2 separate regions of the Homo sapiens genome follow, and region 1 is linked to region 2. The links come from fine-mapping of genetic effects on gene expression. Tissue or cell type: tibial nerve. Region 2 holds a variant in brackets; the other region holds the start of a gene. All regions are shown on one strand. Distances are from middle to middle.

Evidence for each region. PIP is the estimated chance that this variant, and not a neighbour inherited with it, causes the effect.
Region 1: it holds the start of VRK2, and the variant in region 2 is fine-mapped to the expression of VRK2 in tibial nerve (GTEx, PIP above 0.99). The same link has a PIP of 0.9 or more in skeletal muscle.

The regions. Positions count from the first base shown.
Region 1 is chr2:58,038,344-58,054,057 of GRCh38, forward strand. VRK2 (VRK serine/threonine kinase 2) reads left to right here and starts at 8,463. Exons shown (of 13, transcript NM_006296.7): 1 at 8,463-8,525; 2 at 10,484-10,624. The coding sequence starts at 10,489. LOC107984043 (formin-2-like) reads right to left here and starts at 8,890. Exons shown (of 3, transcript NR_171623.1): 1 at 8,181-8,890; 2 at 3,149-3,210; 3 at 1,733-2,725. RefSeq lists enhancers at 840-889, 7,731-8,286, 8,176-8,295, 8,287-8,842 and a silencer at 8,446-8,715.
Region 2 is chr2:58,076,175-58,091,888 of GRCh38, forward strand. It overlaps VRK2 (VRK serine/threonine kinase 2), which reads left to right. Exons shown (of 13, transcript NM_006296.7): 3 at 7,915-7,964; 4 at 8,707-8,776; 5 at 10,165-10,252; 6 at 12,167-12,272; 7 at 13,457-13,549. Among named protein-coding and RNA genes, the nearest start is that of VRK2, 37 kb to the left of the region's middle. The variant G/T (reference allele first, on the strand shown) is at 6,421.

The DNA of each region.
Region 1 (15,714 bases), 38 kb before region 2:
AGTCAATTAAATCTTTCCTTTATAAACTACCCAGTCTCAGATATTCCTTAATAGCAGTGTGAAAATGGACTAACATGAGCACACACAGGAAGAACTTTCCGGCCTCCTCCTTTCTGCCTTACAGTGGTGTATAAATTTTCCTTTGTAAAGGCAACACAGATTTTCATTTGTAAAGGTGTTTTTCTCTCCAGTCCCGAGTGTAGGATAATTATTCTTATCTGCCTAACAAAACTTACTAAACAAGCCTTATCTACCCCAGATTTACCAGTCTCTGTTCCATAGTTTACTGCCCCTAGGAGCCCTCATTTCTTTTGTCTAGTCACTTCTCCATAATATATCACACTTTGTTAAAATGGTATATATGCCTACAAGTCTAACTTCTTTGAGTTTTCACTTTCTTTCTGTGAGACCCTATGCACATAAAAAAATTTAGCATCAATAAAGATACATACACCTTTTTTCCTGTTAATCTGTCTTTTGTCAATTTAATATGCAAGCCTCAACCACACAACCTCAGCCACTACTACAGGTGCTGATGAAATAAGACTGATCAACATTCTGCTTTCATGATAATTTGGAATAAAACAAAAAAACCCTAAATATCCATCTAAATAAAAACGATTAAATGATGATACATCTACACTATGGAATATTAGAAGACATGTACAACTGGAATATGATAAAATATTTATATATTGATGCAGGTTGGGGAAGCCACAATACTATTAGTTGATAAAAATCAAGATGTGAAACAGCAAGTAAGGTATTATCTGATTTACGTAAAAATAAAACAATTTTAAAAGCTATTATACAACCTACATCATCCTGGCCAGTTTATACCCTCATTTTGAAAAGATCCTCACATAGGATCATATTCCAAGAAACAACTCTCCTGCAGCCAAAGATAACCGAAAGCAATGTGCATCCTAATTGCACTTCCTCACAACATTGCCAAAAGGGGAAGTACATTCAACTCTTAAAAATGCTCTTTTTCTTTCTCTTTCAGTCTCAGTTATCTCAGAGCAGCTGTTCTCCACAAAAAACTTTCATATTCCTCTCTCCTTATTCCCTAAAAATTTCTCCTACATCCAATAGGATTGAATTCTTGTCTTTTCTGTTTCTCCTCTAGCCTTCTTAATTATTTTTCTCCCTAGCATTTCTTTTTATTTCAATATGAATTTCCTGGCTTCCTGAGATCACTCCTTGTCTTTCCCCAACTCATTACCCCAATAAGCATATTAAAGACTCAGGATTTAGTGACTAATTGTTTAAGGATGGGGGATCATGACTGATGACTGGAGAGGGGGAAAATGTGTTTGTTATACTGTTAATTGAAAAAAGCAGAATAAAAATATTATATACACACAATTTGAGTATAACTGTGGAAAGCATATAACCTAAAACCTTTTACGGGATAAAAAATAAAACACTAAAAGGAAATGCACTAAAATGTTAACAGAGAGTATTTTTAAAAATTTTTTATGGGCAATTCCCCCTCTATAATTACTTCTTGATATTTTCTTAAATATTTACTATAAGCATGTATTTTATTTTTATTTATTTTTTATTTTTATTTTTATTTTTATTTTTGAGACAGAGTCTCACTCTGTTGCCCAGGCTGGAGTAGTGTTGTGATCATAGCTCACTGCAGCCTCAATCTCCCAGGCTCCCAATCCTCCCACCTCAGCCTTCTGAGTAGCTGGGAATACAGGCACACACTACCACACCTGGCTAATTTTTTTTACTTTTTATTAATAATTTTTGGTAGAGACAGGGTCTCGCTATGTTCCCCAGATAAGCATGTATTTTATAATAAATAGATTTAAATATTGGTATATCTTAAGGAATTTGATAATTGTGTATCTCTCAGCTGGAATCTATATTTTTCACTCATTTCTAGATCCACAGACATCTGAGTGTATTTGCCTGAAATAACAAGGAGTCTTCAGTGAGATAACTCAATATAACAGGTAACAGAAGGGGAAGTCAGGAAGACTAGGTTTGTCCAATTACTTTTATGATATCTAAAGAAAAATAAATCTGAATATAACATAATATCTTTCACTTGTCGTGTCCACTAGCTCCCAACTGCATGCTTAGGTCCTGAAATTGGCAGTGAGACTTAGAGGAAAACCTAAATACACTGTTTACATTAAAACATTTGTTAGCCCCTGTAGTGGAAGTAGTAAAGCAGTAAGAGAAATTGTGACCCAAAGCGACAAGAGAAGCCTTTGCTTCTGTGTGGACCACAACTTGGTTTAAGTGTCTTAAGGGCTGCAGAAAATCCAGGTCCATTTTGATGCCTTGCAAGCTACAGAATGTCAGAGATAGAGCTGTGTGGAAGAAGGCAGCTAGCAACATTAGCCAGATACTTCCACCTAGTTCATTAGGTAAGCTATGTGTCAACAGTAGATACCAACCAAAAGGTTCACAGTAGGAGAGACAAAGTGATGGAGCACATCTGAGATAGTCATTGGGAATGGTCAGGAATATTTGGGGAATAGAAGGTTCGTTCAAGACCCTTAGAGGATGTTGTTGCAATTGCATGAAAGGTAAGCCTAAAAACATGACTTACATGACACACAGGAAAACTATTTCTTACTTCTCCTCTGAAGGTGTCAACTCTATTCTTATTGAACATTCAGCTTCTGCTTAAAAATCATTCGGCCAGCTCCTCTTCTCCTCCTTATCCAGCTCATGTTTTTGGTTACTGCAGGGATGTTAACTGGGGGGGAAAAAGGATGTAGAGTGTAAATATAGTCTTATAGTTAACCTTTTATGGTGCTCGTATTTGGGGAATGGACAGGGTAAGAATCATACCACTTTTGGCTAGTCAATATTTGGTTTACTACATTCAATTGTTTGAGAGATAATCTGATACATATTTACATTTACATTTTGTTTGGCAGCAGGGTTCTACAAATTAATATGCTTAAAAATTTTTTATTGAGCCTTTTGACTATAAATGAAAAATAAAATTCTAAGCCCCCGAACTAACTGAATGGACCCCTCTTTTCAGCCAAGGACATTCCAAAGTTAACTGGAAACACCAGTTCAGGCCATGATGGAAATGGGTGGTTGGGTATGCATACCCTCTGCCCTTTGAAATTCCCACACAACTGACCAGCATTAATATTAAAGCACAGACCTTTGGACTGACGAGACAGACTTTTTGTAGCAATAAGATACCAACATGACAGATACCAGGCCCTGAAAAAAAATGAAGCAGTTTATCCCCAAATATATTTCTTTGACATGTTTTGAAATGGCCCTGCAAACATTCTCTTGTGGAAAAAATCTACATTCTGTAGAGAATCCCCTTCCCTTTCCAAGTCTTTTTCCTGATCCAGAAGAGAATTAACTAAGAATCTGGCATCTTTTTAAGTCTGATAAGAAACATTTAAAGTCTATTCTCTCTGAAGCCTGCTACCTGGAGGCTCCATCAGTAAACTAATACCCTTGGTCTCCACAACCCCTTATCTTAACCCAGATATTCCTTTCTGCTGATTCCAGGTCTTTAGATAAACTCAGAAAATCTTTGAATCCACCTATGACCTGGAACTCCCCCCTCCTACCCCCCTTTCAAGCTGTCGGGCCTTTCCAGACTGAACCAATGTACATTTTACAAGTATCGATTGACGTCTTCTGTCTCCCTAAAACATACGAAACCAAACTGTAGCCCAACCATCCTGGGCACATGTTCTCAGGACCTCCTGAGGCTGTATCCCGGGCATGTCCTTAACCTTGGCAAAAGAAACTTCTAAATTGATTGAGACTTATCTCAGATACTTTTTGGTTTACATGACATATTGATATGACATTTTAAATTATTTTTAATATTCTAATTCTTCATTTATATAGACAATGAAGAATTATGTCATTTGGATGATTAAGTTTATACTTTGTAATGATCTTATATGTAAAGAATGCAGAGGACATAGATACTTGGTCTGATTGTTTATCTAATGGGCTTGGAATTCCATTTACCTGAATTCTATTATTTTCAAAATTATTAATTTCAAAATTTCTATGTCAGGAACTGCTTAGCTGTTTAGAGATTGTAAGTTTATGAGTGCAAATGGCCTCCTGATTTTTACAGAACAAAAATACTAGCTCTTCTTTGGCAGGCAAAACACGTTCACTGATATGATCTCCTTATCTCACTTTAAATAACAAAAATTGGCTTTTTCTGAATGTTTTGTCTATGCATCATCTTTAACATTTTAATTGATTTGAAATGATCTTGGCCTTGTAAAGTATGCTTACTAAATGGTTGGGTTTTTCTTTTTCTTTTTAACCAGTGTAAGCATTTTATAGCACCCAGTTCTTTGAAAAGCAGAACGCATGCCATACCTACAAGTTGGCATACAGCCAAGAAAGTCCTTTTGTGTGCGTGTATTTGTGGTGAATCATTCATAGCCTGTAAGATCTATCAAAATAGCTTTGTTTGAAAACCTAGTTTTCCCCATATTTTTTTTCTGATGACTCACACTTCACTGCTTTCATGTCTAGATTCTCTTTTCTTTCTTGTTTCTCATCATGTTCATTCAGAAGATGTTCTTTCACTAGTTCCAAAATTTGTATTTCTATATTCTGTCAGTTTTCATCTTGAAACATACACACAGCAATATGCTCTGAATCATAAAATTCTGCATTAAATCCCAACACTTAAAAAAAACACATATTCTCAATATAGGTTTACCTGCTCCTGTTGCCATTTTTATTTAGTACAAATTTATTAACATTTAAAAATCATTGGCACTTATGAAACTTGAAACTTTATTTTACTGTTAGGAAGATTTTGGCTGCAAGAAATATAAAAACCAATGCTAAGTGGTTTAAATCATAAGAACACTTAACACTTCATGGATGAATATGAAAATATGGTGGTTCAGGATTAGTTGAATTAGTAGTTCAATAATGGCCTCAAAGACTCAGGATCTTCCTATCTTTCTCTTTTGCCATTCTTTTAAATCGATTTTATTAAGGCATAATTTATATATAATTCAATTTTAAGTGTATAACTAGAGGAATTTTGACAAATGTATAATAATGTATCTATTACCACAGTAAAGAAATTTAACATTTGCAACGTTTCAGCTCCTTGCAGTCAATCCCAGCTCTTCGATTTCGAATAAATTATTATATTATATATACTCCTTTGTGTCTTCTTTTACATAGCATTGTGTTTTTGATATTCATCCAGCTTGTTGACTGTATTGGTGCTTTGCTCCTTTTTATTGCTGAGTGATAGTTCATTGTATAGTAGATATAGTATAATTTGCTTATTCATTCACCAGTTGATGGAAATTTATTTCCAGTTTTGGCTATCACATATGAAGCTGCTCTAAAGATTCCCCTACAAGTCTTTGTGTGGATACAGGTTTAGATTTATCTTGGGTAAATATGCGAATGCTGGGTTGTATGTTAATTATATGTTTGACACTATAAGAACCTGCCAAACTGTTTTCCAGAGTGGCTGTACCATCAACAGCAATATAAGAGAGTTCCAAGTTGTTCCAAATCCTTGGTAACTTATTAGTATTTTTTGAAAAGCAAAAGTTTTTCATTTTGATGAAGTTAAATTGTCAATTTCTTCTTTTAGGTTTCCAGCTTTTAAATTTTTTATACTTTATAAGTGCACACATTTAAAGATTATATAGAGTTTCTGCTAGGTTTTCTCTAAAAAGTTTGAGATTTAGATCTTGTATTTAGATTTAGCTGTATGATCAGTTTCAAGTAAATTTTTACATGGGGTGTGAATTAAGGGTTGAGGTTTCTTTCTTTCTTCTTTTTTTTGTATATATGGATGTCTAGCTGTTCTAACATTTGTTGAATATTCTGCCATTCCTGGGGCTTTAGATTAGTACTTTTTCCCATCTTTGTGGTCACACGATGACTGCAGCCATTTTAACCATCACATCAGAGACTATCTCTTCCAAGAATGTGTCCAGCAAACTTCTTTTCACCTCGTTACCTAGACTCAGCACATGCTTATTTTGTACTGTCTAAACCAATCATGGGAATTGGAATGGGGCCAGCATGGTTCATTTATTCATTGAAGAAGGAAATGGTTGCCCATATCCTTTCTAGGGGTTGGGGATACAGTAGTGACGAAAACAGGCAAAAATGTTGCCTGACCTCATGAAACATACAATTTACTGAAAAAGATTGTCTTTTGTCAAAATAAATAATAAACTGTATAATATATTGCTGTATAGCAGTAGGTACTGGGAAAAATACAGGGAAAGAGGCTACGAAATATTGTGGGTGAGCTGAAATTTCAGATAGGATGTTTAGGAAAGGTCTCACTGAACTGACTTTTAAATAAAGACCTGAAGGAAGTGATGGAGCAGTCTATACGGATACCAGGTTGGAGAGTGGTCCAGGTGGCAGTAAATGCGAAAAGTTCTTGAGAACAGCAGGCCACTGTGGTTGAAGAGAGTAATAGGACATTGGGGAGTGGGAGTGCATAATAGGTAGATCAGTGTTCTTTTCAACGACTGGCAATTTTGGCAAAATTTCGTCATGTTGGGGGATATTTTGGTTGTTAACTTGTGTGGGAGGGAGTGCTGAGGAGACCAGGGATACTGCTAAATATCCTACAATGCACAGGACAGCCTATCTCTCAATCCTCCTCCTTCTCCCAAACCCCCAACAAAGAATTATCCAGGCTGACTGTCAATAGTGCCCAGGTTGAGAAATGCTGTTTAAAGTCATAGCGAAGACTGGCTAATTGTGAGTAAATTGGAATAACACTGAATTGTTTTAAGCTCAGTAATTATTTAAGCGTTAAGGATCATGTGGCTGCTTGCTGTGAACAGACTAAAGGGATAAGAGGGTATAAAACATTTAGGAGGGTAATACAATTACCTAGAGAAAAAATATGGTTTGGGCCAGAATGCAGGTAAGGGTGCTAAGTGATAGATGCTGGATGTATTTTGAAGGTTGAGCCAACAGGATTTACTAACACTGGATACATGCCTGTAGGGAGAGGAACCACCTACAAGTAATCTGCTGTGGTTGCTACTGGAGTTGTTTCTTCTCAAAAGGGAGCCGGGGAAGTGGTGGAAAGCTAAACAAATTTGGAAAGGAGGAAAGAGTACCCAATATGGATATTAGGATTATTATGCATCTGTTACATAAATATCTGTAATTATGCATCTGTTATATAAATATCTTAAGAAAATAAGAAAGGACACTGTTGGACCAGTGAATGACTAAGGGCACAATTATTCTATGGACTGTTTCTTTAAAAATACTTTTTTGTTTGTTTTTAGAAACGTCTTCTCATGCCATCTTTCATTTTGGTGACAGTCTGAAAGATGTAGGGAGCCCCAATTCCTTATTCTATCAAAGTCATTAAAGGGCTCTAATTTTCCTTTCAGTATTTGTATCCCAACCAATTATTGGTGGTTACTATGTAGAATGCTGACGTATTAATAATCTTTGTCTAAGCATTTGTTTGGTTTAGTCTAAAATATAAGCTTACTATGAGTCTTTTTTTTCTTTCCTTCGAGACTGAGTTTCCCTCTTGCTGCCCAGGCTGGGGTGCAGTGGCGCGCTCTCTGCTCACTGCAATCTCTGCTTCCTGGGTTCAAGCGCTTCTCCTACCTCAGCCTGCCGAGTAGCTGGGATTACAGGCGTCCGCCACCACGCCTGGCTAATTTTTTGTATTTTTAGTAGAGATAGGGTTTCACCATGTTGGCCAGGCTGGTCTCAAACTCCTGACCTCAGATGATCCACCCGCCTCGGCCTCCCAACGTGCTGGGAGTACAGGCGTGAGCCACCGCACCTGGCCACTATGAGTCTTTATGTATTAGAAAACTGCTTAATAAAGTCCTCACCTTATTGTCATAATCTTATAACCAATAACCTTATAATCTAACAACAAGGGTTATTTCCATTTCACAGACAAAAAAACCTGAAGTTTGTTAATTACGGTGTTAAATTATCCTACGATTAATGGCAGAAATAGGTCCTGAACCAATATGCCTTTGAGAACTTAAACGCGGTGAGTTACATACAGGCCCTCCTAACTGGAGTCTTCGCTAGTACCAATAGTTAGTTGCTCGGCGAGAGCTCGGTAAGGACTAGCCATTTGGAAGCTCGTAGTACTCAGGTTGTGGTACAGGAGATCTAACACTCCTACACAAATGCATGTCGTGCTTATTTCGTACCAAACTGGTCTGGCGGCGGTTCTTCGTCCAGACGCTGGCGGGCCAGGGTGGAGGTAGTAACACAGCTCCCATTCCCCATGTAGCCGCGCCCTCTCCTTCCCCTGGGCGTCTCCGGGGCGTGGACAGGCCGCTGAAAGGAACCGGCTGCGGCCTGTGTGAGGCTCCGCGGGCCGCTGCACTGCGAGGCCGACGCAGCTGGAGAGAAGTTAGGCAGGTCCTAGGGAGGGCAGGCTCGAGTGCTGGGCCCGCCTCCCCGCGGGACTGTAGGCCCGGGGGCTCCGCCTCGTCGCAGCGGCAGGTAGGAGGCGGTGCGCGCGGCCCGGCGACGGGGGATCCTGAGGCCCGGTCAGTCTCTTGCTCTGGGGTCTTGGGTGGCGGGCGGCACCTCCGCTTGCAGTGCCGGAGCCGCGGCCCCGCTCGGAAAAGGGCTGCCGTCGGAGTTAGATGCCGGGGACTCCGGGCCGTCCCAGCCCCCGGGCCTCAGCTCCGGCCCGGGCAGAGTCGCTGCTTCCGCGTTTGGTTCTTTTTTCCCCGCTGGGAGTGAGAACAAGGCGTCCCCTTCTACTCACGTTTGCCAAAAGCGGGTCCGACGTGTTAGCGGAAAAGTGGGTGGAGTTTCTCTTTTTGCCGGTGCAGAGAGAACTTGTGGCGGGAAGTTGGGGCGCGGGGTTGGCCGTAGGTCCCCGGCGTGCTAAGGGCGGACGGACCAGGCGGCTGGGCCGCGCTGCTTCTCGTTACCTTCCGCAGGGTCAGGGGCCGCGGCGGGGTTGGAGGTCAGCCCAGGCACATGTTAACCCCTGGGTACCAGTTTGCTCGGAAACTCGTGTTGAGGACTCATCTTAGCCCTGGGAAGGTACCCAGAAGCCGAAGGGACACCCCTGACAGGGACGGGCCCTGAGAGGCTGTCGTTTCCCTTGGCAGATGAACTCGGGACTCGCCCCCAGGATGTACATTTCGTAGAGTCTCCCTTACCGCCTCAAGCCCTGAGGCCGCTGCCTTGCCCCAAAGTGTATTTATCTTTTTTATAATTATTTAGAATTTATTCCTTAATCAGTAGTTTACACTTTGGAGACTTTAAGTTTTAAATCAGTAAATCTGTAATAGGCACCAGCCTATATAATGTACTGGTCAAGGGAAACCTCCACAAAAACTTTTCCTGCTTTATGATACAATCAATGCTCTAGGCATAGTTCACCATCCAAATTCCCAGCCCTTGTGTGCCTATCAGGAGGAAGGTGAATATTGTTAAAGATACACGCAGCGACTCTACCTGGGACAATACTGCTAAGTAAAAAAGCAGTTAAGTGAAGGAGGAAAAACCCGTTAAAGGAAAAACAGATACTTTCTTTTATGGAAGCTAGGAAGATTATATTAAGAAAACTTTACATTTACGTATATACGTTTTTAATTAACTTTCATGTCAGAAACTCTTAATAGTTTTAAATACTTAGAGGATCATGGTTACCTTCACATTTAAATTATTTTCAGGCATGTATGCTGGCATATGTATTTTCCCCTAAGAAATTTTCTCTTTTAACTCAGAATTTCCCATTGAGAAATTTGCTAACCTATGTACAATTATAATTAGTTGATTAAAGTTGCATGGCTGTGCTGTGGAGATTATGCTTTTGTTGTTGGTGGCACAGTTGTAATCTCTAAGGCAGGACTGTTTTCACTGTGATAAACTGAGAAAGAGGGTAAGAAGACAAAATGCTGAGAATATTTTGGCAGCCCGAGAACTGATGGCCTAGTATTCTGCTAAGTTACATATCCGTGAAAATCCCTGGCTCATTTAACAAATGTTTACTGAGTACCTAGTATCACGGTGGTGAGATGTCCATTGCCATTGTCTGTGTCTTCCCAATCCAATCCTGTGTTCTTTTCTAGTGACTGAAGACCTTCTCACTTTTAACATTTTACATTCTCAGTGACAGCAATATTTCCATGTACATGAAATTTATTTTCTTTCTTCATTGGAAATTGTTAATTTCGTGTTTCTTAAGGTGTGTCCTGCACTGTTAATATGTGCTATAGAACCCCGAAATGAATTTTGGATGAAATTTGGTTAGTTTGCTTCTGTTTTTTTAAAATATCTATACCTCTTAGATCTCAGTATTGTAATGTATGTGAATTTCTAATTTGAATATAATGTGTGGGCTTTTCCAAACTGAATTAACTTTAGAATCCTAATTTCTGGGAACCTGGGAAAGTTCCCTATTGAAGACATTTTGGGAAGTGTATTTTAAGAGTTTTGTTTGTTTGTTTTTCTTTTTACCCATTTATCTCACCCCTTCTGCCAACAGAAGTGATGCCACCAAAAAGAAATGAAAAATACAAACTTCCTATTCCATTTCCAGAAGGCAAGGTTCTGGATGATATGGAAGGCAATCAGTGGGTACTGGGCAAGAAGATTGGCTCTGGAGGATTTGGATTGATATATTTAGGTAAAGTAAAACCTTAAATTAACAATTATTCTTATATCTGTGACTGTAACCGTGATTACTTAGTGGTATTTTAAGAATGGAAATATGGAATTCATATGTGTACTTTATTAAAATTCATGATTGTACTCGATTAAGTAATAATAGAGTACAGTGTCTAGGTTCAAGACATCACTGACCCACTCCTTGTTGTCCATGTTTTTCTGAGTAAATCTTAGAAGTCTTTTTAGAGCATAATTATACAATCTGCCAGACAAAATGCTAACTTTCTTTTTTTTTGAGAGCTTGTTTTCTTAGAAACATGCTTTTTTCAGATGAGAAACCACAACTGTATAGATAAAAACACTTTCTGTTTGTGAATCTTAATCAATATTTAGGCAATACAAGAGTCTAGTCATTTCTTAATTGGGCTCTACTGGAGAATTCATAGATAAAACTTAAGGCATCTATTCTGTGAAATGAATTAACTTCTCTCTCGTGCATCTAGAGTGGTCCCTAGGGATGTGCCATTCTTGGGATAATTGAAAAAATAAACACTCAAAATTATTTTCTGTGATCTGTGGTACAGGTAAGGAACCATGGGCTGGATAGGCCTTTACATTGCATTTAAGCATTTAAAAATTACACTGAACTTTAATGGATCATTGAGTTGGAATGAGGAGGGGATATCCATTAAAAGATTGATTAATAAAATAAGGAAAATAGTAGTGATTTTTAAAAATATACCCTCAAGGATAAATTCTCCTAAATGTACTCACTTGAGACTTGAGATCACATCTATTTCTATAGGAGATTAAGGAGTTGATAAAATACCTCCGTTGAGGGAATCTTGGGTTCTCATCACATATTTCCAGAAAAACATGCTTCATGGATCCTGAAATATAAAAGATCCTCTTCTGATAAAATTAAGATTGTAGTTTTGAATGAATGAATGAATGAAGTTTGGTCAATAAATATCTGCTTATTAAATACTTAAGTGTCTATTCTAGTTGGAAAGACAAGATCAGCACAAAAAATTGTATGAGTCAAGTAAAGGACCCATTTAAAGGGTTTGAACTTGCTTGAAATTGCTTGAAAAAATACTATGGTTATTAAGTGCTAGATTGAATGACATAGTCAACACTGTTCAATAGAAATGTAATACAAGTTACATATGTAGTTTAAAATTTTCTAGGAGCCACATTAAAATACGTTAAAAGAAACAGGTGAAATTATTTTAATAATATTTAATCTAGTATATCAAAAATATTATTTCAATATGCTCTCAACATAAACAAATGAAATATTTTACTTTTTTAAATGAAAGTCTTCAAAATCCAAGGTGTATCTAGTCTCAAGAGCCCAGTTAGCCCATGTGGCTCATATGCTCAGTAACTACATGTGGCTGCTGTATAGAATAGTGCAAATAAAGACTATGTGAGGATAAGTATTGTTTGAAACTTGAACTTAGTGAATTCTCTTTTACAGCAAAGAGTTAAGATCTCTAGTATACTGTCTTGACTCAAGGTTGAGATATAGTGTTGAATAAATTATTTCTGATGTGGCTGAGCTATAGCCTTGAATTCCATAGCTTATCACTTTTGGTTTTCTAATATTTGTATTATTTGAGTAATTTCAAAGAACTAGAGAAAAGTATTGATGTGTTGATTTTATCTCTTTGATTTTCTTGAAATGTAAATATTATATGTATTTAAATTCAAGTGAATGTTTAAGATTAAATAGTGTATGTCTGTATACCTGTATGTATCTATGTGTACACATAGTCACTATTGTTACTGTTATGATAAAGGAATATACTTGCATAGGCATGTGACTTACTTGTCCCTATTCAAATGCAGAAAAATATTTGCTTCTTTCAGTCTAGTACAGTGTCACATATTTTTACTTTTTTTTTTTTTGAGACAGAGTCTCGCTCTGTCACCCAGGCTGGAGTGCAGTGGCTCAATCTCGGCCCACTGCAACCTCCACCTCCTAGGTTCAAGCAATTCTCATGCCTCAACCTCCCAAGCATCTGGGACTACAGGCACCTGCCACCCTGCCTGGCTAATTTTTGTATTTTTAGTAGAAACGGGGTTTTGCCATATTGGCCAGGATGGTCTCGAACTCCTGACCTCAGGTGATCTGCCCACCTCGGCCTCCCGAAGTGTTGGGATTACAGACGTGAGCCACTGTGCCCAGCCTACTTATTTTTTTTTATTACCAAAATAATACTGTTTGTTTTACAATATATTTTCAGGGTTCAATATGTAAGGGAACATTCTCTAGTATCTGAACTTTAGAACCTGGACCCTACCTAGGAAGATTAGCAAGTACACACCACTGAGGAAGGACTTTAAAGAAATATTTAGCTATTTTCAGAAAAAAGGCTCCAGTACTTCAGAATTTATAATAAAGATGTGTGTTCCAAATGTTGTAACTGTTCCATTAAAAGTGATGCTAATGAATCATAGAATCAGTTTAATTTCACTAAACTTAGTTTTTACTATTTTCAAAGCTATACAAACAAATCAATATGAAATTACATCATGTTTTTGCATTTTATCATGGTTCTCATCACTTCCTCTATATAAATGAAGAGAAGAAGCAGTAAAATTCAAATTTTCCTGAATACTTTTGTGTCCAGTGACATTCATTTCGATTCTTTCCAGATACCCTCTTTCAGCAGACACTTGATCAGCGTTTACTGCCTAAGGCTGAGAAGAAACTAGCTGCTCTGTCTAGCTCATTGTACATGTACAACTGTCCTCTAGCTTTGAGATCAGTAGCCAGGGCCTTTCGGTAATCAGCAGCTTACAGTTAAGGGGAAGGGGCAGAGAAGTTTGGTATTTACTCTTGACTTGGAGAAATAATGTGCCTCTAGCATTAATAAGAAATAGCTAAAAGAGTGAAAAGAAAAGTCTGAATACAAGAACAAAGTCAAAGTTCTTTCTTTGAATATGAAAAGAGAAGGGGAGGAAAAAGGAAGAAAGGAAACTGGTTTAGGGGATGGGAAAAATTGCTGTCATTTTAGTATCAAATGAATGAAAAAGTTTTTTAAATATCAGGAAGGAGAGAAAACTGAGGGTTAGAATTTTACTATAATGCTGGGTATAACACAGAACCAAGTAAATTACGGGAGAATTGCATAAATAATAGCAGAGGTTTTGGCATTAGGCATATCTGACCTGAATCCTGACCTGATGAAGCCACTTATTCATCTAGTTACTTAATCCTTTGGGTTGTTTCTATTCTGCATAATTGTGATAATAATAATTGTGAGGAGAATTAAATGAGATTTTTTTAAGGAACTTGGTAAGCATTTAATAAATGTAATTTAGTTATTTATTTCCATAGACTTTCCCATTCTTAATACTGGTGCCATAGTGGGGCCAGGCACAGTGGCTCATGCCAGTAATCCTAGCACTTTGGAAGGCCCAGGCGGGTGGATTGCCTGAGCTCCATCCAGCCTGGGCAACTTGGTGAAACCCCATCTCTACTAAAACACAAAAAATTAGCTGGTTGTGGTAATGTGTGTGTGTAGTCCCAGTACTCAGGAGGCTGTGGCATGAGAATTGCTTGAACCTGGGAGGAGGAGGTTGCAGTGAGCCAAGATTGCACCACTGCATTCTAGCTTAGGTGACGGAGTGAGACTGTCTCAAAAAAAAAAAAAAAAAAATGCTGCCATAGTGGATTAAGATGATGACAAAGAACTCCATTGGAAGGGTGGATTTTCTATTTATTCTACTATGAATTTTGGTGGATTTAACTACTAATGTGGTAAAACTGAGAACATAGAGAATGTCAGCATAAGACTTTATGACATTTTACTAACTGATAAAAGCTCCCCCTAAAATTTGCTATAGTAGTGAAAAGTTCTCATATAAGCTGTATTTAATCTGCCTCAGATATTAAAGCTATTGGTTTCAGAAATTATTCAAAATTGAGAATAACAGAATTACAGGATAAACTTTAGCCACATTCTTTTGAAGGCTGATTATGTAAGTAAAAGATATGATTTATCTGTAGCAGTTTTAGTTTTTTGAAGGTGGCATAGTGATGACCATTTAGCATCTTTGGAGTGTCAAGCACAGAATAGATGTTCAACAGTTATTTGCCTGAGAAATTGAGACTGAGATTGGAGTACTTAACCCACACAAGCTAGTTTGCTTTGTTCTCTTCCATAATTATAGATGTCACTCTTCGATCTACTGCAGATTAGTATCCTTAGTCACCAGGAAAGTTGAGACAAGGCACCTATCATGACATCATCTAAAAGAATGTGCATGTGCTTTATTGACAGGACATCAGTAGCAATATCTTTTATAAAGATACTATCTCAAAGCTTTTATAAAGAATAACACATTATTATAACTAAAGTTAACTGTGGTGAAGCCTGAAAATCAGATCATTTATCCATGGACAGATGTTTAAATTTCATCAAAGTGACTGCCAGACATTTTTGGATCATGTTGTCGGATTAGCCTAATTTTGTACTTCAGAAACATAGAAGGAATCTTTTGTTGGCGGATAGGTTTTTAGAAATTACCAAAGTTTAAATCATTTATTTTACTGATAAGGAAACATTTATATTTAAAACAAGTAAATATAAACCACATACATAGAATGTTTTTACTTCTTCATAAAATAATTTTTTATTTTCTTTATAAATAGTGAGCTATAATAGATTGATTTTAAGGTATGCAGAATAAAGTTTAGAAGAGCCCAGTGATAATACTAGCAACAAAGTAGTGTGTTGGAATACATATTGCTTCATTACATATTACATTATTAAGTGTTATTTTGGTAGTGTTTATAGAGAGCTTTGAGATAAATAGCCTTATCTGACACAATGCAACGTTGTGGTGCCACTGCAATTGTTATTAGGCAATTTTGCAAATGATACTGTGGGAGTGAAGAGAAGAATTGAATAAATGTGAAAATGAGAATAATTTGGACTAGAAACTATAGTGTTTATGATAAATTAGTCTCCAGAAGGTATAAATAATAGGTAATATAAACTCAAAACAGGGAAGGAATCACTTGGAGTTTTGTAAATTTAATACGTTTGTTGGACTTACAGACAAGAAATAAAAGTCTCTATAAGATGTATTTTA
Region 2 (15,714 bases):
CTACTCCATCTTATCTGTACAGATGCTCCTTACAGTGGGGTTATGTCCTCATAAGTCCATCATAAATTGAAATTATTGTAAGTCAGTAAGGCATTTAATACATCTAGCCTACTAAACATCATAGTTTACCCTAGCCTACCTTAAATGTGCTCAGAACACTTTTATTAGCCTACAATTGGGCAAAATCATCTAACACAAAGCCTATTTTCTAATAAAGTGTTGAGTATCTCTTGTAAGAGTATCATACCTCATATCACTAGCTTGAGAAAAGTTCAAAATTTAAAAATTCGAAGTATGATTTCTACTGAATGCACAGTGCTTTTTCACCATTGTAAAGTAGAAAAACCCTGTTGACCATTGTAAGTTGAGGACTGTCTACATTTTTTTGAAATACTGATTTGTTTCCTTTAATGATTATATTTCTATTTAGGTTTTTTATTTTTTGAATTATTTTGGTAAATTATATTTTTTTCTAGGAAATTGTCATTTTTTCTAAGTTTTTAAGTTTACAGATGATAGTGTTTATCATTAGTTTTTTTCAAAATCTCATGCACATCTATGGTTTTGCTCTCTTTCCAGTACTCGCACAATTTTGTAAGAGGATTGTTACCTTTTTAAAGAGAAATCTTGAATATCACCTATTTTGTTTGTTTTTATACTTTAAAATTTTATTTTGTAACTTTTAATTTTTAAATTTTAAAGAGCTTGCAAAAAAAGAATGTTTCCATATTCTCTACTCGACTGCCCTAAATGGTGATATATTATAAAATAGCACATAGTACATTACATAGTTATCAACACCAGAAAATTAGCATTGATACAATACTATTAACCTATTTATATACTTCATTAAAATTTTGCCAGTTCTCCTACTAATGTCCTTTTTTGGTTCAAAATCCAAGATGACACAATATGTGTAGTTATCATTGTCTCTGTAACTCCCTTTGGGAAAATTCTTCAATCTTTTTTTGTCTTTTATGAGCTTAGCGCTCTTTTTTTTCTCCTCTAAATTATTTATTGAAATATTTTCTTTATAGGCTTTAAATACCTTAGTGTAAGCAGAACTTGAAATACAAAGGACAAACATTGTGTAGAACCTAGAACACCCTATCAGTTCATTGAATCATGATTTCCTCCACACAAGTCCTCGGATTCTTAATTTGTTGAATTGATCCTAGGCCTTTGTTGTCTCAGGATATTTTTCCTAAATCCTAATTGATTGACCAGTCTTATCTGAAGAATTCCTGCCCCCTACCCACAATCTGTGTAGGTGAGTTATTCTTCTGTCTCTTAGAAAAAGTTAGACTAGGCTGCAAAGAACCTATACCTCTAAGCGTCTCCTCCATTTTTTTTTTAACCTTCTTTAAATATATTTTTGGGTGTTTAAATGGGATTAGAAGTGTCATCTGGCCCCCAAAAGTGACCACTCTTAAACTAAAGATATTTCCATAATAATCAAAGCATAGTAATTTTCTGGGAGACTTCTCACTTCATCACATCCTTCCATACCCTCTCTGGCAGTTCTCTTGAACTTATCCTAGTGATTCTTCTTCCTATTGAAAAATAATGTGCGTACTGCCACAATTTACTGTAGAGTTCTGTTGTTAGTGGGATAAGGCCAACAATACCATGTAGAATTCTGTTGCTCTTCCTTCTTCATGCATGGAAATTTGTCTAAGTATTGTTAACTCCCTAGATGTCTCTATACTTCCAGCAAAGAGATAGCTGGCAACATAGTTTTGTCATTTCTTGGACAGAACTCTTTTTCTTCTCAGGCCAATGTGATAGCTTCTTAGCTTGCCCTCTTTCAGAATCCTTGTCTTTGGTAGCCCGTAAGGCTGCAGAATTTTTAAAACTGTGTTTGTATATACAGTTCAGTAGTGTTAAGTATATTCACATTGTTGTGCAGCAGATCTCCAGAATGTTCCCATTTTGCAGTACTGAAACTCTATATTCATTAAACAGTAATTCTCCATTTTCCTCTTTTCCCAGCACCTGGAAACCAGCATTCTACTTTTTTGTTTCTATGAATTTAACTACTCTAGATACCTCATAAATGTAGAATCATATAGTATTTGTCTTTTTGTGTGTGGTGTGGCTTATTTTACTTAGCCTAATGTCCTCAAGGTTCATTTATGTTGTAGCATGTGACATGATTTCCTTCTTTTTAAAGGTTGATTAATGTTCCATTCCAAGTATATGCCACCTTTTGTTTAATTATCTGTCCATGGCCATTTGGGTTGCTTCTACTTTTGGCTAATTGTCTGTAATGCTGCTATGAGCATGGGTGTGCATGTATTTCTTCAGGATCTTACTTTTAATTATTTTCAATACATACCCAGAAATGGGATTGCTAGATCATATGGTAATTTTATTTATTTTTTTGAGGAGCCGCCATACCATTTTTTATAGTGATGGGGTAATTTTATGATCCCATCAACGGTGCACAAGAGTTCCAATTTCTGTGCATCCTTGCCAGCATCTGTTATTTTCAAAATTTAAAACAAATTTTGTTTGTTTTTATAGTAGCCATCCTAATGGATAGGGGGTGATATTGTGGTTTTGATTTGCGTTTTTCTAATGATTAGTGGTGTTGAGCATGTTTTCATATGCAAGTTGGCCACTCGTATGTATCTTTAGAGAAATAGCTGTTCAAGTATTTTGCCCATTTTTTATTATTTTAGAGAAAGGGTAACTCTGTGTTGCCCAAACTGGTCTTAAACTCCTGGGCTCAGGCAGTCTGCCTGCCTCGGCCTCCCAAGTGCTTGGATTACAGGCATGAGCCACTGCACTGAGCTGATTTTGCCCATTTTTAAACTGGACTTTTGTTGATGTTGGGTTATAGGAGTTATTTATATATTCTGTATATTTACCTCTTAGGTGATTTGCAAAGAGGTTGACACTTTTGAAGAGTACCAGCTAGTATTTTGTAGAATGTCCTTCAATTTGGGTTTGCTTTAAATTCAGATTATGTGTTATTTAGTAAGAATATCATAGAAATGATATTTTGCTTCTCCCAGTACTATCAGTAGGTGCATGATTTATTGTATATCATTATTAGTGACATTAACTTTGATCCCTTTTAATAATTAAAGTGATATTTGCCAGGTTAGCCTGCCATAAATTCATTATTTTCCATTTACAATTAATAAGTGTCTTGTGGGAAGACATTGAATGTATTTGCATTATGTTGCTTTTAATCATCCATTTGCCTATCTGTTTTAATATCTATTAACGACTTGCCCCAATTATTACTTGCCCCAATTATTACTGTGACATTTGCCAAATGATGATTTTCTATTTTTATCATTTCTTCTACATATCTTAATTTATATTTATTAATTTATTTCAGCTGCAGGAAAGAGCTGTATCAACTCTCTCATTTATTTGTTTATTTATTTACTTAAATCAGTAGACAATGGATTTTTTTTCCTATGGGTTACAGTTCATTAGTATTAGGATGGCACAAAAGCAGTCATGATTACTTTCAATGGCAAAACCGTGATTACTTTTGCACCAACTTAATATTATAAATTTTATTGCTTAATTTGCTTAGTTTTATTTTCTCTGTCTCAACTCTGGAATCAGCCATTTCTCCAAGGAGCCCTGATTCATTTCATTGAAAATGATATTTAGAAGCCATAATATGGTTGCTAGGTGTCCTCATTTCTACTGAGAGATTATTCCTGTAGGCCTTTTCAGTTTCTTATTAATTTCTATTTATGTCATCATTTTTCTAAGTTATTAAGGGGAGCACTTAGCTCACTAATTTTTTAGTTTTCTTAAAATCAAAATATTTAGTGCTATAAATTTTTCTCCAGGTAACTTTTTTATTTGTTAATTTATTCACCAAATATTTAATACATGCCTGAGGCTCTATTTTAGGTGCTTGGAACACATCTGAATAAAGCAAAAATATTTCTTTATTTGTGGAGTTTACATTCTAGCAGAGGAAGACAAGTAATAAAAACACATTTTAACTGCATTCTAACTAGTTTTTATATGATATTTTTAGTATTCAGTCCTATCTATTTTCTGATTTCCATTGTGATTTCCTTTTTCCCCAGAGAACGTAGCTTTAATAATATGCCTTGGTATTTGTTGAGACTTGTTTTCTGGGTGAAAATATGGACAGTTTAAAAAAATATTTTAGATGGGTTTGAAAAGAATGTTTTTAATTATTAGTGTTTTTAAAAATCTGGCATGTAGAGAAAAAACTTAATTGCATTGTTTCAATGTATTTATTGTCTGCTTGCCTATACATTATGGGACTGTATTAAAATCTTTCACTATTTTTGTTGCAATGTTGTTAATTTTTTTTCCTGTTATTCTGCTAGTTTTTGACATGTATTTTGAATTACATTTTTAGATGATTTCAAGTTCATAATTATTATCTTTCTGTTGCACCATTCCTTTTGTGATTAGGTTAGACTAAGTTCATATCTAATCATTCTTTTTTCCTGAGATTTATTTGGTTTTGAAAATATTTGTTCTAGTCTTTTAAAGTTAGTTTGTACTTATTAATTTATTTTCTATATTTTTACTTTGTTCCTCTGCATCACTAGATTCTAGGTTTGTCTCTTATAAATACATTTATATTTTTAGCAGTCTGACAGTTTATTTCTTCAGCTGGTGAACTTAGTGTATTTAAGTTTATTAAATTTATTATAATTACTGACATATGTAATCAAATCTAAGATATTATGTACATATGTGCAGCCCATATTAGATGCTTAAAAAATTCAGAATTGTTACTTCCTCTTGTGTAATTTCTTTTGTGTTTCTGTAGGACCTGATTTAGATCTAATACCTAATGCTGCCCATTAAACTATGACAGAATACCCTTAAACTTTGTCTTACTTAAGGAACTCAGAATACTCAATTGTTGCAGTCATATCTTAATAAACATTTTTTTCATTGATATCAAATTCATGGCCTGCTGCTCTGTTTTGGTCTGGTTAATTACCTTTTCTACATACACAAGAATTTTTCTTCTCAGTGCCAAATCATTAAGTTAAACTCCACATGTAATACTATCAGCTATGTACATAACTCAGTTAAGTAAAGACAAATGGACAGACAGGATTGAGTGTGTGTGTGCATAAGCAATAAAAACTGTGTCATAACTGTGTGTGTTCAACAGCAGCTGTAAGATGTCATCACTTTTAAGATGCATTCAGATTTCAGAGATGTTAACATATGAAAAAATGTATGGCTAAAAATTGATTTATTCTGGTATTTTAAATTTTATCATATTTTGTATTTTTTTATTTATTCTAACTGTGTTTTCTTTTTCTTTAAACCTTTTTTTCTTGCCATCTATTAAATTGTTTAGATGTTCTTTGTTATCTTCTTTGCTCCTCTACTGATTTTGGAGTTATGAACCTCTGTTATTTTAGCATTTACCCTTAAAATTTCAAGGTATTCATTCTATTTAACAAACTGTAAGGTTAATCACTTTCCTACTTTTTTGGATAACTCAAGGGCATTATAGCATTTTAACTCTGATTATGTTTTTTCTACATTGTGTATTGTTTTTGTCAATGTTTTCAGTCTACCGTATTCTAGATTGCAGTTTTACATTTGTGTATGAGTATTTGATGAACATGTATTTAATGATGCATCTTATAATCCAAGACATCTTAGATTTCTCCACCAGACAGCAAAAGCATATACCATGTCCGTGTGTGTGTGTGTGTGTGTGTGTGTGTGTGTGTGTGTGTGTTTCGTCATTTAATTTCACTAGCTATAATGGGGCTTGGCTTACAGTAGAAAATAATTGTTTTATTAATTGAATATTTATTCTACTATAAAAAGACCCCCGTGGTAACCAGAACAATCTCTTTGTTCATATGAAGCACCCGTCTCTAAGAGCTTTCTAGTCTATTGATTTTAGACTTAGACCCTCCAATATAATCTGACTTGGAAGCTTATAGAGAATATTGTGTAGCTATCAAGTGATGACCGTAGAGATTTTCAGGTATGTGTCAACACATGATTATGTTCATTCAAAATGTGAAAGGAAAATTCAGATTATAAAGTATTAGGGATATAATGATTGAAATAGGCAAGGAGTCAGGCCTTGGACTGGTTGGACATCTTTTTTTTCCAGTGGTAACATAATCTGTTATTTATCTTTTTGAAACTCCCAATTTTCTTCTGTACTTTTTAGCTCATTACATTCTGTTGGGCTTAAAGATTTATTTGCTGCTGTGGTCACTTGCTTTTAGACAAGAGGCAAAACTTTCTACTGACATCTACCTCAGGTAGCAAAGACAAGTGCCTAAAGTAGGTACTGTTTTATGTGGGCCAAGGTTGGAACAGGATATTTCTCCTTAGCCTTGGAAACCATACTAGTAAAATAGTTTGTCATAGGGTGGGAACAAAGGTTTTCTCACCACTTCTTCTATACCAAGACTG[G/T]ACTCTGTCCCCTGTGTATACTTTCTTAAGTTTTCTTCTTGGAAGAAAGTAGATCTGGCTAATCCACTCTTCCTGCAGTTTCCTTGGGACTATTGCATGGGTAAAAATGAAATAACTTAACATGAATGAAGGCGAAAAGATAATTTTAAGTGCTATAAGTAAGTTTAGTTTCTTTGTTATTGTAAAGAGGTCTGGGTTTACAATTTAATATTAGCTAGAACTGAAATAATACTTTCTTCAACTGGTTAGTAGCATTACTGATAATTAAAAACTGGAGAATGGTTAAAAAATTGTGTATGATTGGCTCAACTGTAATGTACAATTTATATATTTTAATAAAATTTGTGACATATTTATATCTAAGATGTGAATTAATGGAAAAAAGAGAACAGCTGACAGAATTAGAAGAAAGAAAAGGACAATGTTAATAATAGGACACAGCATTTTAATAAATATATTGAATATATAAAAATATATTGTATCTCAAGAATTTGATCCTGTTCTCAAGTCTGTTTCTTACTGATTTTCAATTGTAGTCAATACTAGTTCCACCTTTTTTCCTTTCCCTTTCCTTCAGATATCATCCAGACACTTAACACAGTGCCTGGCATATTCTAGCTTCTTGATAAATATTTTAGCTATTTAAATGAGTAAAGGAATGAATGGATGGAGAGTGAACAAATGAACAAATGACGAAGTTTTAGTCTTTTGCAGTACAAATAAATATACATGTAAATTTATTGAGATTTGAAAACAATCTTTTAATAATTTAGGTAATGTAGAGGAAAAGATTAATTTGTTTTAAAATGTGAACACTGGAGTTTTTAAAAGTAGGGTTATACCATCTGAACAACAAATGGAAAATAAGAATTAAATGAAGTAAGGTAACTTGAAATGAATTTATGAGATATGTATTCTTTAATGTAAAAGTAATTGATTAGCAGGTTCAGAAGAAATTTTTAAAGACTTTATTCTCATTTTAACCTTGCTTGTTCTAGAATTTTGTCAAGTATAAATTGTTTTGAACTTTCTACTTAAATTGAATCGATTTTTATTTCTGAATCATTATGAGTTCTAATTTAGTGCAATTGAATCAATGGATTTTACTGTGTATTATATATTGGCTTTAATGCCATATATCTATAAAATATTTCCCCCCACATTTTGGATCTATATGATTCATATTGTCTATTGATTCTGTATTTAAATATTTAAATATGGTTTATGATCAAGTGTATGGGCTGTGATGTCAGGCAGATTTGAGTTTCTGTCTCTAATATATTACCTCTTAGTGAGCAATTTATTCAACGTCTCAAACTTCAGTAGCATCTTGTATAAAATGGAGATGATTGATTCCTACTACCATAAAAGGTTGTTGGGATGACATAATAAACTTACATATGTAAAATGCTTAGCATAGTGTTTGGGATATGGTAGGTATTCAGTAATTGGGAATAACTATTTTTCTCCATTGTGTGTTTTTTTTGTCTGCAGCTTTCCCCACAAATAAACCAGAGAAAGATGCAAGACATGTAGTAAAAGTGGTAAGTGTTGCTCATAGATTTGTATTTCACATATATTTGACTTTTTCCTTTTCTGCTTTAAGAATGTTTTTCACGTTAATTTTTGTAACTATTGCCTTATCAGTAAACCTAATGTTATCATCTGTTTTGACGTTGTTAAAACATTAAAACTGGAGAACCTTTGTTTTTCTGTATTGCCAGCTATTACCCTGGTGTGTTATCTATCTAGCTATTCTTTCTCTTTCCCTCCCAAATGCCCTCCCACCCTCTCCACCTCTCTAATCAAGATGGTAAGGTCCTTAAAGGCAAGCATAGGGTTTTATTTCTTTTTGGTGTCCCCTGTACCTAGTATAATGAATGAAATATAGTAGACCATTCAGTAAAGGTATCATGTGTGAGTGGACCACAAGGAGAGTTTGCTGTGTATCACCTGGATGTATATGTTGGTATACAGTGAGTGTTGTATATGTTTATGTATACAGTTCTCAGTGCTTCTAGTAAGTGTTCTCTGTAAGAAAACTACTTTTATGTGTAAGACTGTATAGGGATAGTGGTACAATATGTCGTTTAAAAATTAGATTCTTCAAGTTTATTTAGTGTTTTCTGAGATTTTTAGTGGAAATCTGGTGCCTATGTTTTATAAAAAGTGATTCAAGTACTATTATATACTACATATATATGTTCATATTTTCACAGTTGAAATAACAATTCCATCTTTGGGATTATTTTTTTCTAGTAAAATTAATTATTCTTTTTTTTATAGGAATATCAAGAAAATGGCCCGTTATTTTCAGAACTTAAATTTTATCAGAGAGTTGCAAAAAAAGACTGTAGTAAGTAAAATTAGCAAAGCAAGCTACTTCCATATATGTGCTTGCTAAAGTGAGTGTTGATATTTTGGTCTTTTTCTGGCCTTCTGGAAAATTCTTTTCAATAGAAATTTTATTGTAAAGTGATACAGTTAACTGTTACAACATATAAAAGCAAGACAGATGGTATACAAATCTTGACATGACATACATAATGGGTTATATATTTTAAGTCAAAGTTGTTTCTACTACTTTACATAAAATGTTAGGTTGTTAATCTAAGCTACCAAGAGTTCCCTAAGTGTAAAAGATAGTAGAATGAAATTATTTCTTTTACAGTAAACCATTTGGATAGGACGGCTATAAGGAAAAAACATTAAAATGGGAAGTAGATATATGTATAAAAAAAGAACGATTGTAGAATGGATTGGGGCAAGGTGTGTGGAAATGTGAAAATGATTAAACTTTAAGATGTTTAAGAAAATGTTAGAAACTTGAATGCTGGAAAATTAATTGGAGCTGGATACCAAGTGTAAGAATGACCAGTTAGAAGACTTGAATGGGAAATGAATATAAGCAGAGAGGAAAAATAACAGCATTTTATAAATGTGATATAGATGGGCTAAGAAAAACATTAAAGAAGTAGACAGGAGTAATGACTGTATAGTCAAGGTCCTTTACATCATGTTTAAGAATAAGAGTGATGGGTCTGACCTCAATATTTAACTTAGTTTTTCTTAATAAAGTCTTCTAAACATTAAGACTGTAATCTTTACTAATTGCTTAAACTATGTCACAGTGACAAATAGAATCCATTAAACTTGATTGTTTATCAGTAGAGCTGTCTTAAACATAAAAAACATAGGCTAGAGTCATGAAAAAAATGATGAAAGTTAACTTTATTTAAGTGGATTTGATTTTTTGTAAACTAATCAAAACCAGTTTTTGTATAAAGTAATTTCAAAGTAAGATGGTTTTTCTGCCCAATTTCTGCTTTTTTTTTCTTTTTTTTTTTTTTTTGGTCCATTATGGTTTTAAATCTTGAAGTAATAGGGAAGAAAAAGCCATCTCTCTACTGATCTTTTGGTGGTTAACATATGTTATATTTAGAAATTTAGCTAGTATATAAGATAATGAATTCTTTTTATAGATTGAAACATTAATATATATGGTATCAATATACAAAGCCTATGACTTGTTTTTATTGATTTAATTTAAAAATTTCTAATTTTTTGTTAATTATAGTGGTAACAGTTTGAGGCCATTAGATAGAGATGTTTGATTGAAAAAAAATTATCTTCTAGGAAGATCTAATTACTTTTTTGGTTAGCTAAATAAATTTGTCTGTAGAAAGGTGACAAGTATCTTTTCAAATAACATGAATCTTTTTAAAAATAAATTTGTCTTTGTAGTCAAAAAGTGGATAGAACGCAAACAACTTGATTATTTAGGAATTCCTCTGTTTTATGGATCTGGTCTGACTGAATTCAAGGGAAGAAGGTAAAATGGAATTATTATAATCAAATATTTCTTTATAACTATTCCTTATGTGGTCTATGAGTTAACTATTGCCATGTAACAAATTACCAAAACATATTGGCATATAACCACAAACTTGTATTGTCTTAGTTTCTGTGAGTGAGGAGACTGCAAGTGGCTTATCTGTATGATTCTAGATCAGGATCTCTAATAAGGATATGTAGTCAGCTGTCTGCTGGGTTACATTCATTTCAAGGCTCATCTGGGGAAGTATTTGTTTTCAGGGTTCCTCATGTGGCTACTGGTAGGCCTAAGAAGATCTACTTCTAATTTACTTATGTGATTGTTGGCAGGCCTTCTTACTTCCTGATCATGTGGGTCTTTGCATAAGCTACCTGAGTGTTATGAAAAATAGCTGGCTTTCTCTAGAGCAATTAATTGGGGGACGGGGAGAGCATGCACACAAGTGCATTCAAGAAGGAAGTCATCGTTTTTTGTAATCTAATCTTAAAAGGGATATTATCGCTTCTGCTTTATTCTCTTTGCTAGAAGCTAGTCACTAGATAGATCCATTGGTCCTGAGAGAGGAGAATTCAGTTCTATCTCTTGAGGAGAAGCACAACAAATAAGTTATAGAAATATCTTTAAAACCACCAAATATGGCTAGTCCTATATATAATTTATTAATAGTGTTTGAAAAAAGAAAAAAAGTGTGTCATTTTATATTTACCCTTTTGTGCCAGAGACTTTTATATACTTTATCTTATTTTGTCCTTTGAATAGCCTGTTAAAATAGGTGATATTATTTTTATTCCATAGATGAGAGAATAAGCTCAGATGTCAGTACTTTGTTGAAATGGTCTCTAAATGCTTTAAATTTAAAAAAATGAGCAAACAGTAATCTTGAAGTAAAGGACTGCCACTGGGGGACTGAATGGCTGATTGAATCATGATACATCCATATCATGTCATATGTAGCCCATTAAAGAAGTCCATTAGAGCTATACTAGTTGCCTTAGAAGGATTTTGATGAGATACTATTGAAAAAAGTAAGATGGAGAAAATACTTATAATATGATCACATTTTTGTAAAACAAATTCCTAAGTGTGTGTGTTTGTGTATGCATGCATAGATATAGAATAGGGGCTGATGTGGATATATAAATGAAGGGAAGGAAAGAAGGTATGGAAGGTGCCAAACAGAACAGAAAAGGAAGAAGTGCACTTAAAGACATGTTTATAAATGTATAGAGACGGTATATATGATCTTATCAAGAAACAAACAAATATAAAATTCATGTGGCTGGGCACGGTGGCTCATGCCTGTAATCCCAGCACTTTGAGAGGCTAAGGCAGGCGGATCATGAGGTCAAGAGGTCGAGACCATCCTGGCCAACATGGTGAAACCCCGTCTCTACTAAAAATACAAAAATTAGCTGGGTGTGGTGGTGCATGCCTGCAGTCCCAGCTACTTGGGAGGCTGAGGCAGGAGAATCGCTTGAACCTGGGAGGTGGAGGTTGCAGTGAGCTGAGATTGCACCACTGCACTCCAGCCTGGTGACAGAGCGGGACTCTGTCTCAAAAAAAAAATCAAGTGTGTACAATAATTTGTTCAAGGCCATATGGCAAGAAAGTCATGGAGTCAAAATGAATTGCATTCAGTACTATCTAATTTAGAAAGATTTTTTCATTATGTAAAACAGTGTGAATGGTTCAGTACAGCATTCTCTTATAGAAAATCAGCTGCAAAGTAAATATTGAGCAGTTTCTGCAAAAGAATAGCAGAATTATGAACGTGCATTCATTCTCTAATGGTTTAGATTGCATTATACTTAGTTGTTAGGTTGAGCGTAATTTTTCTTGTTTCAAATTAAATAGACAGTTTCAAGCATTACTTTCTCAGGATGATCTCTTTTTGATGCTTTTTTCTTACAGTTACAGATTTATGGTAATGGAAAGACTAGGAATAGATTTACAGAAGATCTCAGGCCAGAATGGTACCTTTAAAAAGTCAACTGTCCTGCAATTAGGTATCCGAATGGTAAGAATTACTTATTTCGCATGCTCCATTTCCAAATTGTTTACTTCTTGCAATATAGAAATCTTTTCCCTTTGTGGAATTATTAGAGAATGAAGGATTATTGCCCTAGAGACATCAGTTATTAGGAGTAGAGGCTATTTTGGTGAAATTGATAACAATGGGCTCTGTAAGTGACAGAATGTGCTGTGTATGGCACTGCAAACTCAATTAGGCTTTGGTTCTCCAGTCTGATCTTCTTTTTCCTTAGAGCTTTGTTTTACATACCAGAACAAGCTTTCATTGCTGTAAGAATAACCTTTCTTTTGTCAGTTATAACAATGCAAATTATGGCAAAATATATTGTCAGACATTTTAAACATGTGATGGTAGGGGGGTGCTATGAAGTTTTTATTATGAGTTTGGGATGGTGGCAATAATTAGTTGTGACAATGAATAAAATATACTTTGCCAAAGCAGAAGCAACGAACTCTTAATAGCACTCAGGCACACATTTGTTTATACTACATATTTGTCTTATATGTTTGTATTTGGTTTGTTTAAGTCTCATTTTTTCACTTTTGAGTAGCATGAAGCTGCTTATGCCAGATTGGAATGCAGCAAATAGAATGCATTAATTTTCTCATTTATCCATCCTCGAAGCCAGCAAATGTTTATTGAGTACTAAGTGTATGTAACATGCAAGGCTGAAGGGCTTTAGAGATGAAGCTAAGGAGTTTTCTATTACCATACAGAGGAAGAATACCTTTCCCTTTGCTCATGGACATGGCATTTTGTTCTGAGATTCTCAAGGCTTGATTTATAATTATTGCTTAGGTGAGGAATTGCTGAGTGGGCTTCAAGATTATTTCACCATAGATCTCTGATTTTATGCTATGTTTTTCCTCTTTGTGCAGTGCGGTTTGGCTACTGGGCTATCAGGAATTAGGCATAAGCATTTTTGAATCTTGATTTTCTTCCTTTGGAACTTCAACTAAAATACTTGATTTTTGAGGATCATTTTACTTTTTTCTAGGATGAGCAACCAGAAGATGTGATATTTTAGAATAATTAACCAGTAATTGTGAAATACATCGCTTTGTCAATGTTAATATGAAAAAACCCATGTTATTCTATATTCAAAATGTTGAAATTGATCATGAGTTCTAAATAGCAGTAAACCTTATTTTATCTATTTATTTTCACAGTTGGATGTACTGGAATATATACATGAAAATGAATATGTTCATGGTGATATAAAAGCAGCAAATCTACTTTTGGGTTACAAAAATCCAGACCAGGTAAATACATACTTTTGCTTTTAATAAAGGTCTTTAATGTATGAAACTGAAACATTCAGAAAACAAACTTCTAACCCAGAAGAGTTTACAAATGAGGGCGTAACATGATGAATGTTGTAATTTATCTTACCTGCTTATCTAATTTAATCTTTGTACCAAACTAATGAGTAATTAGGATGAGAAACTGAGAGTCAGAGGGGTTAAATAATATGTTAATGGGCACACAGTTAAGAAGTGGCTGAGCAGGAATTTGAATTTCTGAGCAAATATAGATAAGCAAAGAACCATCAAAATCCAGTGGGAGTAGAGATGGATTTATGTAGAGGTTAAAACACTGTCATATTAGTTCATCATTTCCTACTGTATAACCAATTAAGTTTTAAGCAGAGAGGCCGGGCGCGGTGGCTCATGCCTGTAATCCCAGCACTTTGAGAGGCCGAGGTGAGTGGATCACCTGAGGACAGGAGTTTGAGACCAGCCTGGCCAACATGGTGAAACCCTGTCTCTACTAAAAATACAAAAATTAGCTGGGTGTGGTGGTGGGTGCCTGTAATCCCAGCTACTCAGGAGGCTGAGGCAGGAGAATTGCTTGAACCCAGGAGGCGGATGTTGCAGTGAGCTGAGATGGTGCCATTGCACTCCATCCAGCCTGGGCAACAAGAGAGAAACTCCATCTCAAAAAAAAAAAAAAAAAAAAAGTTTTAAGCAAGCTTTTCCATTAAAATTTTGTGTAATGATGAAAATATTCTGTTTGACTGTCCAATATGGTAGCCATTAGCAGTATGTGGCTAAGTACTTAAAACGTGGTCAGTACAGTACCAACTGCTGATGAGTATTTGGAGTAACAGGAACTCTCATTTGTTGCTCATGGAAATTTGTTGCTAATGGAAATGCAAAATGATACAGCCACTTTGGAAGACAGTTGGGCAGTTACTTAGAAAGCTAGACACTCTTAACATACCAAGCAGCAGTTGTGCTCATTAGTATTTACCCAAATGAGTTGAAAACTTACATCCACACAAAAACCTGCACGTGAATGCTTGTAGTCGGTTTATTCATACTCGTCAAAACATTGAAGTAACCAAGATGTCTTTGAGTAGGTGAATGGATAAACTGATACATCCAGATAATGGAATATTATTCATTGCTAAATAGAAATGAACTTTTCAGCCATGAAAAAACATGGAAGAAACCTAAATGTATTTTACTATGTAAAAGAAGCCAATCTGAAAAGGCTAGTTACTATACAATTTCAACTATATGACATTCTGGAAAAGGCAAAACTATAGAGACAGTAAAAAGATCAATTTTTTACTATCTCCATAGGTTAGAAGGGAGAGGAAGGATGAATGAGTGAAGCACAGTGGATTTTTAGGTCAGTGAAACTATTCTGCATGATACCATAATGGTGAATACATGTCATCATTTGGTTGTTAAGATCCATAGAATGGACAAGACCAAGAGTGAACATAATGTAAACTGTGGCTTTTGGATGATAAGGATTGTCATTCTTGGTTCATTCACTATAAAAAATGTGCTACTCTAGTGAGGGATGTTGATAGCGGAGAGACTTTGTGTGGGCTTGAGGTATATGGGAACTCACTGTATTTTCCACTCAGTTTTACCTACATTGCTCTAAATTTACCTAAATCAAACCTAAAACTTCTCTAAAAAATATAGTCTGTTTAAAAAATGTAGATTATATTTTTAATATTAAAATATTAATATTGACAAACTGAATTTTTAATTTAACTTAATTTAAACTTAAATAACAATATACCTAGTTGTTACTGTATTATCACGTTTAAAGAGTTAAATGATTGAGTCTATAAAAAATTAGAAAAAATGTAATTGAATATTTGATCTCTGCATTGGTTAAATTTCTTAATAAAAATTTTTTCAAAATGAAAGGTGAATGAGAAACTGGGAAATAGATAGATAACAAATATTTGAGAATATCTAGCCGGTACTAAAAAAAAAATTAAGAAAAACACTAAATACCTTGTTAAAGCGATGATCGAAAAGAATGAATAAACAGAACAGAGAAGGAATATGACTGTCCTAGAAACAGGAAAAAAGGCTACCTTTGTGAAAAATGAGAAGATAAGGAGACCAAAACAGCGAGGCACCCTTTTTAAAGGACTTATCAAATTGGAGAGGTCTAA